Regions from separate parts of the Homo sapiens genome. Here region 1 is linked to region 2. Evidence: fine-mapped expression QTL. A gene starts in region 2. The other region holds a variant in brackets. All regions are shown on one strand. Distances are from middle to middle. Region 1 overlaps LINC01572 (long intergenic non-protein coding RNA 1572). Region 2 holds the start of ZFHX3-AS1 (ZFHX3 antisense RNA 1).

Evidence for each region.
Region 1: its variant is fine-mapped to the expression of ZFHX3-AS1 in whole blood (TOPMed, PIP above 0.99).

What each region holds. Positions count from the first base shown.
Region 1 is chr16:72,401,830-72,410,245 of GRCh38, forward strand. All of the region lies in intron 7 of LINC01572 (long intergenic non-protein coding RNA 1572), which reads right to left. Among named protein-coding and RNA genes, the nearest start is that of PMFBP1, 230 kb to the left of the region's middle. The variant A/C (reference allele first, on the strand shown) is at 3,413.
Region 2 is chr16:72,660,958-72,669,373 of GRCh38, forward strand. It overlaps ZFHX3-AS1 (ZFHX3 antisense RNA 1), which reads left to right and starts at 4,176. Exons shown (of 4, transcript NR_171704.1): 1 at 4,176-4,376. LINC01572 (long intergenic non-protein coding RNA 1572) reads right to left here and starts at 4,013. Exons shown (of 14, transcript NR_126330.2): 1 at 3,935-4,013. RefSeq lists enhancers at 3,755-3,874, 3,915-3,974.

The DNA of each region.
Region 1 (8,416 bases), 260 kb before region 2:
ATTAAGATAGTTTATTCACCACTGAACTTGACTTCCTTATAATAAACTTTGGCAGAATTGAAACAGCATAGATGCTTTGGTTTGCTTATTACTGCTCTGAATTATGGGAGACTGCTCCATGACAAACTACAGAAAGTCTTCTACTATCAGCAAGGATTGTTAAGAGTTCAGAAATTCTCATCTTTAAAATAAGGCTGGCCAGGCATGGTGGCTCATGCCTGTAATCCTAGCACTTTGGGAGGCTGAGGTGGGCGGATCACTTGAGGTCAGGAGTTCGAGACCAGCCTGGCCAACATGGTGAAACTCCATCTCTACTAAAAATACAGAAAATTAGCCAGGTGTGGTGGCGGGTGCCTGTAGTCCCAGCTACCCAGAAGGCTGAGGCACGAGAATTGCTTGAACCCAGTGGGAGGAGGTTGCAGTGAGCCGAGATTCATTCCAGCTTGGGTGACAGAGTGAGACTCTGTCTCAAAAAAAAAAAAAAAAAAAAAGGAAATACAAAATAAGGCCTATGTGGAAAGAATTTTTCCCCAATCACAATGTGAAATTTGAGAGACTCAATCTTTTCGGAAATGTCTTCCTTGTCCAGATTCAGTGGTTTCTCCACATTGTTTCCATTTTCTAGAAATTTAGGCAATTAGTCCTTCTTTCCCTTCCTCATCAGTACAAGGAGCATAAAAACAATCATTTCAGTAAGTTGTTGTAGAAGTCAAGATACTGTCTGGAAAAGCCCTGTATAATCCTGTAATGTAATTCGGTGTAAACCAGCACAGTTATTTCTCTTCTCTCTTGCTTTGGCTTGAGTAAAACACTGTCTTCAGGTTCTTAATAGCTTACTGGAGGTCCCCTTTGGTAGATTTTGAGGTGAATTTATAACATTGTCTATTATATGGATTGTATGGATTTATGACAATTTAGAGATTCAACAATTCCTTCCAACTCTCTCTGATGTGTCCATCTTTAGTTCATTTCCTACAACTGGGCACTTTCAAGGCTAAATTCCAAGTTTCTTACTCCTTTGATACCCCTTCTGGAGGATCTAAATAAGTTTTATGGCTTCAGATGTTATCAAGTTTGGGCTACCATACTGCCATCTACGATTATACTTCTCTCCACCATTGTCCATGGAACATTTCAGTTTGAATGCCATACAACTCCTGAAACATCATATTTAAAAACAAGTCCATCTCCCCGAAGAGTCATCTTCACTAATTTCCCCATCACTATCAACAACATCTTGAGTGTTTCCAGGCTGAAAGCTGTGGTATCATTTTTTCCCTACTGCTATTTTAACTTACAATTAAAAATTCTGCTAATCACTTCTTTGTAACAACTTTGGTCTCCCCATACTCCTACTCCCAGCTTCCAATTCCTCTACTTCCCAGATCTCTGGTGTATTAGTCTGTTTTAACGCGGTTGATAAAGACATACCCGAGACTGGGCATTTTATAAAGAAAAAGAGGTTTAATGGACTCACAGTTCCACGTGGCTGGGGAGGCCTCACAATCATGGTGGAAGGCGAAAGGCAAAAGGCAAAAGGCAAAAGGCACATCTTACATAGCGGCAGGCAAGAGAATGAGCAAAGTGAAAGGGGAAACCCCTTATAAAATCATCAGATCTCGTGAGACTTATTCACTACCACGAGAACAGTATGGGAGAAATCCTCCCCATGATTCAGTTATCTCCCACCCGGTCCATCCCACAACACGTGGGAATTACGGGAGCTAAAATTCAAGATGAGATTTGGGTGGGGATACAGCCAACTGTATCATTTGGCCTTAACTATCTCATGTGTAGATGATTGCAGAAGGAAGCGCTAGAAAATTCTCATCATCTGACTTTTCGTACACCAACTAAACTTTGAGATTATTTGTACAATATTATTCTTCAGTTCAAGTATCCCATTGGCTACGTATTAATCAGTAAGTTTATTACTCAAGGTACTTCATTGTTAGAACTACTGTTTTATTAACTACGAGTTTATTTCCATAAAAGATATTCCACTTCAGCTGCTCACTATGTTTGCTATTCTCAGGTTTGACTTTTCTTGCCTTCTAAGCTTTTAGGCCATATGGTATAACATTGCCTAAAGAACATCTTCATTACTGTGATGAGTGGCAGATCATTAAAAAAGGGTGTGTGTGTGGCTAGGGGTCAGTGGGGAGACTTCTGCTGCTGATCATTTGTTCTACAATTAAATAAATAAAATTCAACTTGATTTTTTTTTGGCTTGGTAGCCTAGAATTTATATCACTTCCCTCTTTCATCCATAAAGATACATAGGCTTCATCCTCTTCAAAATCCAGCTGAGAAGTTAACTTCAGGAATCTTTCCTGGACTGATTGTTCATGGATAAAATTTGTCTCTACTTAGTATCTGTGCTCTTTATTCAGAATTTTTAAGTGCACAGTTGTTGATATGGTATCATTTTCAAGTACTTTGCAGTCCATATATAATGTTTGTTATATGTGTATACACACATCTGTTATCATAAGCCTAAGATACATAATAATGTCATATTCCTTTTAATTTTCAAATTAAATGTCTCTATGCTTTATTTTCTCCCCAGGATGTTTGCTTTGCTGACAACTTCAAGACCTCTAAGGATGCTTATTCAGACTTACAGGTCAGTTCTGGTAAGCATCCTCTGACTAGTCAACCAAGCAGTTGAATTCTTTACAGCTGTTACTAATGTCACTGGCACAAGATATCCTTATTGAAACAAGGAGAACCCAGCAGCCCCAGCATGTTCTTTGTTGTCACTATTTAAATACTCTGATGCCATAATTCTTGGTCATTGCTGGATAAGCAACAATAAATTGGGCATGGCTTTTTTCTGAAAACCTGCCCAGTGCAAGCCTGCTTAGGGCTGAGCCTGTGAGTACCTCTCAATGCATGGGAGGAGCCCAGCTGTACTTACCTACATTTCTTGTGACTTTGGCTCACAGCCAGGTCTTCACGTACCAATGTATGAGGCTCACATCTTTGAATCTGGGCATGCATATACAAATATTTTCTTTAAGGGTACCCATAGTACCAGGGTGAATAAGTTTGAAGGACTTTCTAGACTTAGTCTCTGTCCTTTATAAAACCATCAGATCTTGTGAGACTTATTAACTATCACGATAACAGCACAGGAAAAGCCTGCCCCCATGATTCAGTTACCTCCCACTAGGCCCCTCCCACGACATGTGGGAATTATGGGAGCTACAATTCAAGATGAGATTTGGGTGGGGACAAAGCCAAACCATATCACCATGCCAGCTTCTTTCCCCAGTGTGGCTCCAAGAATGCTGACAACCAAACTCATAATTTCAAGACAGGAACTTAGAAAAATCCTCTCTGAAATAGCACCATCATAAAATAAGAGACTTCGTAATACTGACATTTGGAGATCCCTAATAAAATGACT[A/C]GTCATTCTGTCTAACATTGATTTCAACAGATAACAATCCACATTTATGCACAAGAAGATTTCAATTGTCTTTTTAGAACCTCACCCTCAAATATGAATGGAAAGTCAAGGACCAGATATCTAAACAAAGTTCCTCTCTCCATACACTAAAAAGCTGAATAAGGAAAAAAAAAAATTGACGAAAAGAGAACAGGAAGCAGAAAATAATCTCATAAGACCCATAATCAATATTGTTAAATAAGAAAATATTTTGATTGCATTCATGAGACAAGAACGAGAGGGCATAAAAAAGGAACATTCTATGTGCAAAAGTATTATCCAAATTTTAAAATTATGATGCCGTTACACTTTTGGCAATGGTAGATTGACTTGTATTATGTTAACCTTCCAATAGACAGCAATACATTCTGGGGAAAAATATAAAAACAACTATTTGAAGGCACTGGGACAACTTAAAGCAGGTAGAAACTGAAAGGGGAACTGCATTGATTCTGCATCTGGCTTTTCACTTAAAGGCTCTTTCCAGTCAGTCTACACCACATGAAACGGCTGGAACGCAAGCAGAAAGCTATAGTCTTACCTGATTTGAGGATTCAAAGGAAAAAATTTTGGGCTGATGGAATTGCTAGAAAATCATGGGAAGACCTCAGACAGGAGAAAGCTGAGGGCCTGGAGGTATAAAATCTTCATATAAACCCCCTCAAATCCTTGGCTGGTCTTGATTAATGCATGTGCAGAGGACCTGGCAAAAAACAACAGCTGGAAGGCTAAAAAAAATGAGTGAAGAGTTTAGCTCAGGGAGGAGTTTCATTTTTGAGCTCAGTCCCTTGAATTGCTTGCTAGAACAAAATCAGCAGTATTTAAAGATAGCCATAGCCTCCACAATAGCACAATTAAAAACTACTAAACACATGAAGAAACAGTGGATGGAAAAAAAGTAAGTTGGAGAAAGCCAAAGAAAGGAAGCCGTGAACTTGAAAATACATCAATAGAAAATATTCAATCTGAAGATGAGACAGAAACAATATTGAAAAAAACCTACAAAGACTCACTATTCTGTGGGACTATATTTAAGTGGTTTTAAGTTATATTTAAATGTATTCTCAGAGCTGTGAAAATGCAGTATAATAAAAGATTTGAGGAAATAATGACCAAATTTTTCCTAAATTATGAAAGACATAAATTTATAGATACAAGATCTGAACTCCAATTAAGATAAATACAAAGAAACCACACTTAGGCACATTTTCACCGAACAGTTGAAAACATAAATAAAGAGAAAAGCAGCCAGAGGAAAAACAGCTCCATTATAAACAGGGGAACAATTATACAAATTATTACTGATTTCTCATCAGAAACAATGGAGGTGAGGAAATAATGGAACATCTTAAAGTGCTGAGGGAAGCAGGAACTGCCAATCTTACAATCTCTACCTAGGAAAACAATCATCTTAAAAAATGAAAGCAAAATAAATAAATTTTCAGAAAAAATTGAGAGAGCCTGTTATCAGCAGAATGGTTCTAAAAGAAATATAAATTCTTCAGGGTGAGAAAAATCAGATGAAAATTTATAGAGAAAGAATGAAGAAATATGAAATGGTAAATACTTGGGTAACTATAAAGGACTATACTTTTTCTTATCTTTAAAAGAAAATGACTAATGAAATATAATAACACCTTCTCGGTTAATGTATATATTACCTATAAGATAATATCACAAAGGATGAGATGGTAAATAGAAACAGACTGTTACATGGCTCTAATTTTTTTTTTTTTTTTTTTTGAGACAGAGTCTCATTCTGTCGGCCAGGCTGGAGTGCAGTGGCACAATCTTGGCTCACTGCAACCTCCACCTCCCAGGCTCAAGCAATTCTCCTGCCTCATTCTCCTGAGTAGCTGGGATTACAGGTGTGTGCCACCACACCTGGCTAATTTTTGTATTTTTAGTAGAGATGGGGTTTCACCATGTTGGCCAGGCTGGTCTTGAACTCCTGACCTCAAGTAATCGACCCGCCTTAGCCTCCCAAAGTGCTGGGATCACAGGTGTGAGCCACTGCACCTGGTCACATGGCTCTAATTTTTAAAAAATGCCTTCATTGAAATACAATTCATAATACAACCTACCCATTCCAAGTATACAATGTAATGGCTTTAATTATATTCATAGTAGGGTAAGAATGGAAATGGCAGCCGGGTGCAGTAGCTCATGCCTGTAATCCCAGCACCTTGGGAGGCCAAGTTGGGTGGATCACTGGAGGTCGGGAGTTCGAGACCAGCCTGGCCAACATGGTGAAACCCTGTCTCTACTAAAAATACAAAATAGTCAGGTGTGGTGGCACGCATCTGTAATCCCAGCTACTCGGGAGGCTGAGGCAGGAGAATCACTTGAACCCAGGAGGCGGAGGTTGCAGTGAGCCGAGCTTGTGCCACTGCACTCTAGCCTGGGTGAAAGAGCGAAACTCTGTCTCAAAAAACGAAAAAAAAAAAAAAAAAAAAAAAAAAAAAAAAAGAATGGGAATGGCTAATATTGAATTTAAAATTGTTTTCAATGCCATGATGTAAACACATGCTCCAATTCACATCCACAAATCTTCCCCAGAATTGACCTGGGAAACACAGATTAGTCATTGCATATAAGTTGTGGTTACTAAGTTAAGTCTACTTCAATCAAGTCTTTTAATAATCTAGATTCAAGAATTCAGGAATTTGGAATTATAAAAATGTTAACATAAAAATAGGGCAAAGGATAGAATAATTAAAGTTTCTGTAATAAGAACCTATATGGGAAAATTAATATGTATAAAAATTTCCCAATAAAAATAAAATTTTTGTAATGACAATATAGTTTGAGGCTGATCAACAACTTGAATAACCACTACTTGTTGATAGGATCACAAGTGAGGACTGGATAGATGTAGATTATATTTCTATAGAAGTCGTTACCCTACCAAATTGCAACTTGGCATTAAACAAGAAAAGTTACAGCTTTTCATTAAAGGTACTCAAATAAATTCATTGTTTATCAAATAAATTTCTACTTAGAGGAAGACAATGCTGCATAGTAAATTGTTTCTCAAACGTAAGAACTATACAGACCCTTTAAAATGAAATTCTGCATAATCTTAATGTTATATTACTTAAATACATGGAAACATAAAATCATAAAGTTAGGTTTAATGCATTTTCTTAAGCTCTTATAACTATAAAACTAAAATAAATTTTAAAAAATTGTAAAATCAGTATTTAAATAAAAATAGTATGATAAATTATTTTGTTTTACTAAAATTGCTAATGTTAGGTTTAATGTAAGGTGGTATTTCTTCAGGCATGTGTCTATAGTTAAATTTATTATTTGGTGTTCTATATTTCTAAATTTAATATTTTTAAATTTTCATGTTACTACTGTGGACACTGCCTCTTTACAGAAGTATGTTTTATAAAATGGCACTAATGTTCATTGAGTTGTACACTCAAGATTTCTGTACTTTAATAAGTTAAACCTTTATTTAAAAAATAGTTTTCACAATGTAAAGGCTTTGTTTGATAGTACAGTATGATCAGACTTAACAAAGTCCTGCTCAGAAACAATCTTTGAATGCCTATTTTAATAAGGTGTCTGTATTAGTCCATTTTCACGCTGCTGATAAAGACATGCCCGAGACTGAGCAACTTACAAAAGAAAGAGGTTTAATTGGACTTAAACAGTTCCAAGTGGCTGGGGGAGCCTCACAATCATACTGGAAGGCAAGGTGGAGCAAGTCACATCTTATGTGGATGATGACAGGCAAAAAATGAGAGAATGAGGAAGACGCAAAAGTGGAAACCCCTGATAAAACCATCAGATCTTGTTCACTACCAAGAGAACAGTATGGGGGAAACCGCCCCCCATGATTCAATTATCTCCCACTGGGTCCCTCCCACAACATGTGGGAATTCAAGATGAGATTTGAGTGGGGACACAGCCAAACTGTATCAGTGTCATTGTTAACATTATAGAACTTTTATTTAAAGGTAAGTTTAAATATTCCTATTATTTCAATTTGCATTAAATAATCTGATGGGATTTGGAACAGGGTATTTGGCACCACAGAATTGTTTCAAATAGGCACATACAAAAATATGGTCTCCGCAATACAATGACTATTTCAAATTCAAGATGGTAACAAAGACAGCAGTGTTCATTTGGGTTCATGTTGCCTTTACTACCACATGCTATGTTACAGATCAATCCTCTTTAAACCACTATGGGACCTTCAGTTTTACATTGTACGATGACATTTTTTGCATTCTCTTATCTAGCCAAACACAACCAAATAATTGTGTTTCTAGAGAAAATACCAAATAATTGTTCTGGAATGCAGGGCCATCAACACTGCTCGCTGCAGCCTTGACCTCCTGGGGCTCAAACAATCCTTCTAGGTCAGCCTCCTGAGTAGTTGGGACTATAGGCCCGTGCCACTATGCTCAGCTAATTTTTCATAGAGACAGAGTCTCACTTTGTTGCCCAGGTTGGAGTATTTTGTTATAAGAGGTTACTAAGATTATTTGCATTATCATTGTTAAATATAATTAAAAAGATAAAAGCACAATTTTAAACTGTTGAATTTTTTTTTATAGCACTTGTCACCTTCTAACATATTATATATTTTACTTCTTTATTTGTTTATTGTCTATCTCCTCTATTCCCACAAGAATGTAAGCTCATTTAAGCTCAGGGCAGCAACATTTTTCTTTTTTCATAATGTATCTCAAGTGCCCAGAACAGTGTCCAACACATAATAAGCACTCAGTCAATATTTGTTGAAAGAATAAAAAACTTTGTTATAAGATGACATCTGGGGACATCCCAGCCTTTCAGGATTCCTAGATTGAGAAATGCTGGAATGAAGGAAAAAGCTTTGGCTTAGAGGCTTATGTCTTAGCTTTCTAGTTTTACTCAGCTGCTTACTACCTACATAACATGGGGCAAGTTATTATACTTAAACTCAGGGAGTCTGATTTTGCC
Region 2 (8,416 bases):
GTGGTGAAACCATGTCTCTACTAAAAATACAAAAATTAGCTGGGCATGGTGGCGTGCGCCTGTAATCCTAGCTACTCGTGAGACTTAGGTGGGAGAACTGCTTGAACCCAGGAGGAGGAGGCTGCAGTGAGCTGAGATCGCACCACTGCACTCCAGCCTGGGCAACAGAGTGAGACTGCATCTCAAAAAAAAAAAAAAAAAAAAAAGGGCAAAACATTTTTATAGATGCTTCACAAAAGACGTTCAGATAACAAGTGGATGAATGACTGACTACTCTATTTCATTAAGCATCAGAGAAATATAACTTAAAATTACAATGAGACATCAGTACAGACCCAGAGCAATAGTTTAAAAAATTTAAACTACTAACTACTATAAACCCCAAGGGCTGATATGACTGTTGAATAACTGGAACTGCCATATGCAGCTGATGGGAATGCAAAATGGGACAGCCACTTTTGAAAAAGGTTTTAAAGTATTTTATGAAATTAAGGCTGAGCATGGTGCCTCACACCTATAATCCCAACATTTTGGGAGGCTGAGGTGGAAGGATTGCTTGAGGCAGGAGGTTAAGACCAGGAGGTTAAGTCCAGCCTGGACAACATAGCAAGACCTTTTTTCTACCAAACATTACAAATTAGCTAGGCCTGGTGACATGCTCCTGTAGTCCCAGCTACTTGAAAAGGCTGAGGCCCAGGAATTCGAGGTTATGGTGAGCCATATCCTACCTCAAAAACAAAACAAAACAAAACAAAACAAAAATAGAGAGGAAAAAAAAAAGCAAAGAGCAAGCAAGCAAGCAAGAAATTAAAATCTTTGGCCACACAAACACCTGTAGCCAAATGTTTATAGCAGCTTTATTACTAACAGCCAAAACCTGGAAACAACTCAAAGCCCATTAACTGCTGAATGGATAAACAAACTGGTAATACATATAATGGAATACTACTCACACATTAAAAGAAAAAATTAGTGATACATGCAAGAACATAGATGAATCTTGAAAGTATTATATCAAGTGAAAGAAGCCAGACACTACCAGCTCATACTATGTGATTCCACTAACATGATGCCTCCAAACACAAACCTATAGCAGTAGATATCAGATCAAGGGTTGCTAGGGACCAATGGTGAGGATAGAAAATCGATAATAAGTGCATGAGACTTTACAGACTTACAGATATACTAAAAATGATTGTGATAGTTCACAACTCTTCACATTTGTCCAAACTCATAGAACAGTATTCCTTAAAAGAGTCAACTTTACCATATGCAAATTATGACTAAATATGCCCGACTTTGTTTTTTCAAAAGTGAGGGTGAGGTGGGATGGGGTTGGGGGAGACATTATATACAGGAGAACAAAGATAAGAATGACACCAAATATCTAAAAACAACAGCCAGAGGACAATAGAATATTAAAGTGCTAAAAAAAGTCAACCTACAATTATATATCCAGTTTAAAAATAAATCTTTCAAAAATGAAAGTTAAATAAAAACATTTTCTAAGAAACAAACACTGACAGAATCCTTCACCTACATGCAGTATTAAATAAATGAAGTTATTCAAACTGAAGGAAAATTATGAAAATATGGATCTACATAGATGGATGTATTCTATCAAACACTTAACAATGCAATGCCAATCTTATACAAACTTTTTCAAGAAGTAAAGAATACAACACATCCCAGATCACTTAAAGATGTCAGACACCATTACCCTAATTCTAAAACCAGACAATCAAAATAAAGCAAAACTGAAGACCAATCTCCCCAAAATGGCAACCGAACAGTGAAAAAAAATTTAGTTAAAGCCATTCCTCACATCATATATAAAAGCAAATTTCAGGTAAGCTAATGTTCTCATGTGAAAGATAATGCCTGAGATGGTTAGGAAGAAGATTATGAGATTATATTCAGGTATATGCTGGTAGAATTCACCATAAAATTATTTTAATATAAAACATCCAAAAAATTAAGGCACACAAACTATTTTCACTCTTCATGTTGATCAAGAATTTTCCTATTTCTTGTTAATTCAAAAAGACTCTGGATGCAATACCTTGTGAACTTATTTTTTGGTATGCCCCTGTGCTCATATACTACCTTACTACCTTTATCTCTCTGTTTTTTGTTTGTTTGTTTTGGAGATAGGCACGATCATTGGCCACTGCAGCCTGGAATTCCCCGGCCCAAGTGATCCTCCCACCTCAGCCTCCTGAGTAGCTGGGAGCAAGGCGAACACCACCACGGCTGGCTAATTTTAAAATTTTTTTGTAGAGATGGGGTCCGACTATCGTCTTGAACTCCTGGGTTGGTCTCGAACTCCTGGGCTGAAGCAGTCTTTCCACCTCAGCCTCCCAAAGTGTTGGTTGGGATTACAGGCGTGGACCGCCACACTTAGAAATGACTTTTCTAATATCCTTAAATCAGAGCTCATGTAAAATTTTCAGCCTTCTCATTCCACCTCCCTCCGAACTACAAGTCTTAAAACTAAGAAATGACAGCCATTCGGTAGAAGTTAAAACACTGTTTCGCTGCTTATTTCTACTTAAAAAAATTATATACATAGATATATATTATGTAAATATATATAATTATATATATAGACATACGTGTGTGTATATATATAAATAAACGTGTAGAATTGGACTGGGGTCCCACTAATATCCACATTTCAAAACAGAATCTAAAACTCCCTAAAACAGGGTTGGGCTCGGCGGCTCACGCTTGTAATCCCAACCCTTTGGGAGGCTGACACTGGAGATCAGTCTGAGCAACAAAGTCAGATCTCTTTTCTACTAAAACAAAATACAACTCTCTAAAACTAATACAAAATTTTGTGTGTATGTGTCATATTCTGGAGAAAAGCTCCAAGGTTTTCCTCTGGGTCTTAAACAGGACTAAGACCCCCCACCCCCAAAAGAATCTCTGTTCTAGAGGCTAAGCATATAGAAGCTCATACTGCATTATCAAACTGGAAAGTTAATAGAGGATTTTCATGGTCATATACAGGAGAGGTGGGGAAAGCTGTCTATTTAGACTGTAAACTCCTAAAATGTTCATAAATCTCAATGGAAATTAAATCCACCGGGGTGGGAGAAGTATCACAATAGACAAAGAAGCTAAAGGTTAATGAAGAGAAGGTTTTAATCAGTGGTTACTTTTGTGCTTGGGATCAATCCTCAGTTTGTCCTCCAACGTAACTTTTGGCATTATTCATTTCAAAGTCTGAACAGTATCCATAAACCCAATACGAAACCTATGGATCCAGAGGGTCCGACCGAAAACAAAACAATTATGTTTCCGATGTGAACGCATCAATAGCTTACTTTTGTAGCGCTTTATAAAACGCTGTCACTTGCTGCTTTCCACGTCATGATATTCCCGGTCGGGAAGAGTAGGACAGCAGCATCTTTTATGAATAAGGAATTTTTTGGATTCAATTTGTGAGGTGTGGGACGCTCACCAGGTTGCGCGAAAACCATTTTTCTACATCGTCAAGTGCACGCACCCCGTGTCTCATAGTATTAGTGATGAAGACGAGGATGAAACTACCAAAGACATCAGTGGGGAGTGAATTATACTTGGGGGAGGTGTAAGCACGTCGAAATAAGGAAGCTGAGAGACATTTTGTGAAAGAGGGAAGGTAGCGTTAAGAGGAGCCTTCCATCAGGGGCAACAGAACGGGGGCAGGCGTGGCGTCTCTGGGACTGCCGGAAAACGACGTGAGGGAAAAACTCAGAGGCTACGAAAAGGCGAACAGACGGAGGGCCTGCCTCAGGGGAGCTAAGCAGCTCGCCTGAAGCCCCCCATCTGGAAATGACGTGTTTAACTCGGCGCCCCTGCAGCTCCGGCCGCCCTTTTTTGTTTAACTCCGCGCCCCTCCAGCTCCGGCCGCCCTTTTCGTCGCTCTCCCCTCGCGGTCGCTCACCCCTGAGATCCCTGGTTCCACTGAGACGCTCAGCTTCATTCGGCAACTCGCGGACACCAAGCGCCACAAATTCAAATACGAGATCTAGAGACGCTGGGTCTCAAACGTCTCCCAGAGTGAAAGACAGAGGAACCAATCGAGGCTCGGCTGACCTCAGACGTCTAAGGCGATAGGCGTTGCTAAGAAAAGGGGGTGGGACGATACCCAGTTGCCAAGACGACGGCTTCCGGGTGGGCGGCTTGAGGTGGCTTCCGGCCGCCAGGCGAGACTCCGCGGGAAAACTCCCTGCTAGAGAGACTAGGAGATTTGGGGCTGCGGCCGTTTCCTCCGGAGCACCCACGGGACTGTGTGCTGGGGTCCCTCCACCGGCTGTGTCCTTTATTCTTCTTTCTCACCCAACGATTTACCTGAACGGTTATAAAGTGCACGTTATTTCCCTAAGGTAAGCGTGTGGTAGCGCCTCCTCCTCCTCCAACAGGGGGGTAACAGAAACCTGCTGTCAACTTTGTTACCCAACATAACTGTACTTAACCACAAAAAGTTGAAATTTTGGATCTTTAAACATTCAATAACCTCTTGCTGTGTGAGGTTTTTTAACTGCACTACATACATTTTGTAGTCTTTAACCATTGAATGCGATTTAAGTTTACAATGAAATTTAACGTTCTGGTTGTTTCTGACCCCAAATTTCATCTGAACCAGTTAATGGACGAAGAACTGAAATTTTATTTTCTGTGACAGTCTCATAGGTTCTCAGACTTAAGTTCTTAATCGCCCATAAATCTGAAGGCAGGTGTTAAAGATGAGCAGGTGATTTGAGCCCAGTCCATGCCAACACTCAAACTAATTCAGCTGAGACTCCTTTCGTTAGGAGCATTATTTTAATTTTAAAAATTTTAAACCGAATGGTAAGCATGGCTGCTTTAGTTTCAGTTGTGTCTCATTTGATGATGATAGTCCCACACAAGACGATCTCATTTGTCAATGAAAGTAAACATTAGTGACCACACAGCTTTCTGCAGATAACTCTTTAAACGAACATCTTTTATCAGACCACAGAAATCATTGTTATTGTCACTAAAATGTAAAAACTAAAGCAAAACTTATCTGCTTATCAACAATTTCTTCCTCCATAGCTAAGGTAGGGAAGCATTTATGAAAGCTTAGATCTATATGTGTTTGGGATCCTGCCAACCCCTTTCTTAAAATTCCATCTTCAAAACTCCCTGCTAATGAGCACTTTTCCAACAGCTTGGATGAAACATTCTGAATAATTCGTCAGCCTGAAGGTTAGAAATTTCATTAAATAAAAAATTAAATACACAGAATACTTAAGTATGAAACATTAATGAACTGAGTAATACATTCTTAAGAAGAGGAGGCACTTAGGAAAACACAGGCCACCTGCATTGTGGAGCCATTTAATGTGATGAGATTTGATAAATGGGTAAGAGATCAAAAAATGCCCAGGGTTTCAAAAGAGAATGTTCCATGAGCAGCTTACTGCCTACATAGACCATTTGAAAATCAAACCAACTCAGCAGAAGCCCAAGAGGCCTTCAGATGAACCCGAGTATCCTTTGGATGTCAGTGTTGTACTGAACAAAGTCAGTTGAACTGTTATTTATCTGACAAGAAAAAAAAATGCCTAAATTTTGTAAGGACTTACACCATTCATTTAAAAATATATAGTGATCTTAGAGGTTAGAAAGCACAGAAAAGAAACTTGAACATAGAGGTACTTAAAAGGAGAAAAATAAATTTCCTCCGGTAGTAGACATGTATTTGGCATTGTTCACTGTTATCTCCTTGATGTCCTCTCTCCTCAGCTTGGCTGAATCCTACTTACGCTTTTAAGACCCAGGTCAAATTGTGAATCTTTTGTGACCTAGTCCATAGTCACCTCTCTCCCTCCTGAATGCCTATAATAGTCTTTATTTGGCATTTTTTTGTATTCTTTATAATGTTTCTTATTTATGTTTATGAATATATCTTACATATAACTTGCATCATCTAAACCCTAAACTACTCAGAATTGTGTTCACCATGTACCTGGCAGACAGACTTGAACAAATAAGTTTTGATGTAAAACTGCCAAGATTAATACTAAATATAGTTGAGATCCATATTAGTTTGCTAGAGCAAACATAACAAAATGCCACAGACTAGGTGGCTTAAACAACAGAAAGTTATTTTCTCACAATTCTGGAGGCTAGAAGTTCAAGATCAAGGTATCAGCAGGGTTGGTTTCTTTCTGAGGTCTCTGTCCTTGACTCAGATCACTGTCTCATCTCTTTGTCTTCATGTGCTGTTTTCTCCATGTGTGTGCACACCTGTGTCCAAATTTTCTTTCCTTGTAAGCACACCAACCCTACTGGATTTAGGCCCGTGTTAAAGACCTCATTTTAGCTTAATTACCTCTTCAAACACCTTATCTCCAAATAGGGTTACTTTCTGAAGTACTAGGGGTTACACCTTTAACATATAACTTTTGGGGAGACTCAAGGCCATAACAGTAGCCAAGACTCAAAAAGCAGAAATGATTGGGAGCAATTATCTGTCACCTTTCAGAACTCCCATTTTTAGACCTATAGATAGCATAAATGTGTAAGTCAGATTAGTGTAAGATAATAGGAAGTGGTAGGGCCTGTGGCAATTCAAAGTATATTTGCCCAGACAGAAGACATTCAAATTAAAATTGTAAACAACCCTCCATCCCCACCCGAGCCATCCAAACAAAACAGTTTGGCTGGTTTTGACTTACAGGTTATCAGTTTGCAAAAACCACCACCATGTTACTTCGTTTGGAATCATAACCTGATGGTGGATATTGGACATATTAAGTATTTTTATTGCATATCCAAATACATTTTTCCCAGACCCCATTGGTTTATGCACAGCTTTTTTTATTGAGTACTTGTTGTGTTAAAGGAACTGTACTAAGTGCCATGCAGGGATTAAGATCCATACGTTTGGCTACATATATCCTAGAGTTACAAGGACCTATTTTTGAGATCATTTATTAAATACCTAACTTTACAAAATTTAATTTTTTGTGTAACTTTATCGTGTAAATAAATTTGAACTCCAAAAAAAATTTCTTGTCAGACTACATGCACCACAAAGACCAAGACTGTGGCCTCAAGTACAAGGGTAGAGGAAATGAGACAAATAAAAAAATAATTATTGAGCAAGATGAAAGAAGACCATAAGAGGATTATAGATAAAGTGCTATGGAAGATTACAGGACAAACAGATTTCATCCAGCTGGGTGTGGTGCTGAAGGTATTTAATGCAGTTCGAATTAATCTTTTCATGGCACTTGGTACCTCTAATATATCATTAATCGGCATATTATATGGTAGCTATTTGCTTATGTTCATATCCCTCCCAGTACGTTCTGAAATACACAAGAATGTCATAATCTTTATTTGTTCCAGTCTAATGTTATTCAAAAGCATCTAGTGTTACCCAAAGGAGTCAATTGGGGAACTTTTTAAAAAGAAACTTGTCTTAATTCTAGCTCTGAAGATTGTAATTAAGTAGGCCTGGAGAGGTGGTGGAGGATCTCTATTTTGAAAAGTTTTCCCTCACTTAATAAATCTGGTGATCACACCATTTAGAATCTACTGCCCTAGAGCACCTAGTATATAGTATGCTCTCAGTAAATTGTTGTCACATTAAATGAGCAGAGCTGCAATTTAGTAAGATTAATAAGACTCCAGTGTGTAGGATGAATTAAAGTGGGAAATATCCTAAAGGCAGGAAAATCCTATTACAGATGTCCAGCTAAGAGATGAAGCAGCCCTGAACTAGGGTAGAGACAATAGGAGATAAATGGATGAGAAACACTGAGAAGGTAGAATGAGCAGACTTAGGTGAAAATTGATATAATGCAGTAGTTCTCAAAATGTAGTATGCCTAAGTCTTACATGGGTTGTTGATTTAAAAAGATTTCTGGGATCTATCCTTGAAAACCTTTTCAGCTAATTCAGGGTAAAGCACATGAATCTAGCATTTTTAACAACCCTTCTTCATGATTTTGATTTAGATTATTTAAATTAAAAACCTCGATTTAAGAACACACTGATCTATTAACCATAGTGAGTAGGGAAGAGGGACTATTGAAAAAGAATTCTAAAGATTAAATCTTGAGCGACAGGGAATATGATAAGCCATTAATTCGGCAAGTAAGAAATGTCATTTAAGAGCCTGGAAAAGAGGTATGAGTGAAGAAAAAATTGGAAAATCTTTGTTTAATAAAGATTTCTAAGAGATCAAAGAAAAAGAAAATGGTTATACAGAGAATTGAGGGAGTATTTCTCCTTTTAGAGACCTTGAAAGAGGCAGCATATGAAACAAAGTGGAAAGAAAAACAAACTGGCAGAAACCAAAAACAAGAGTCTCAAGCAAATAATATTTATAGCAGGTGAATAAGAAATACAGGGGTTGTGTGGATGTAGAGAGGTTTCTGGAATTGAC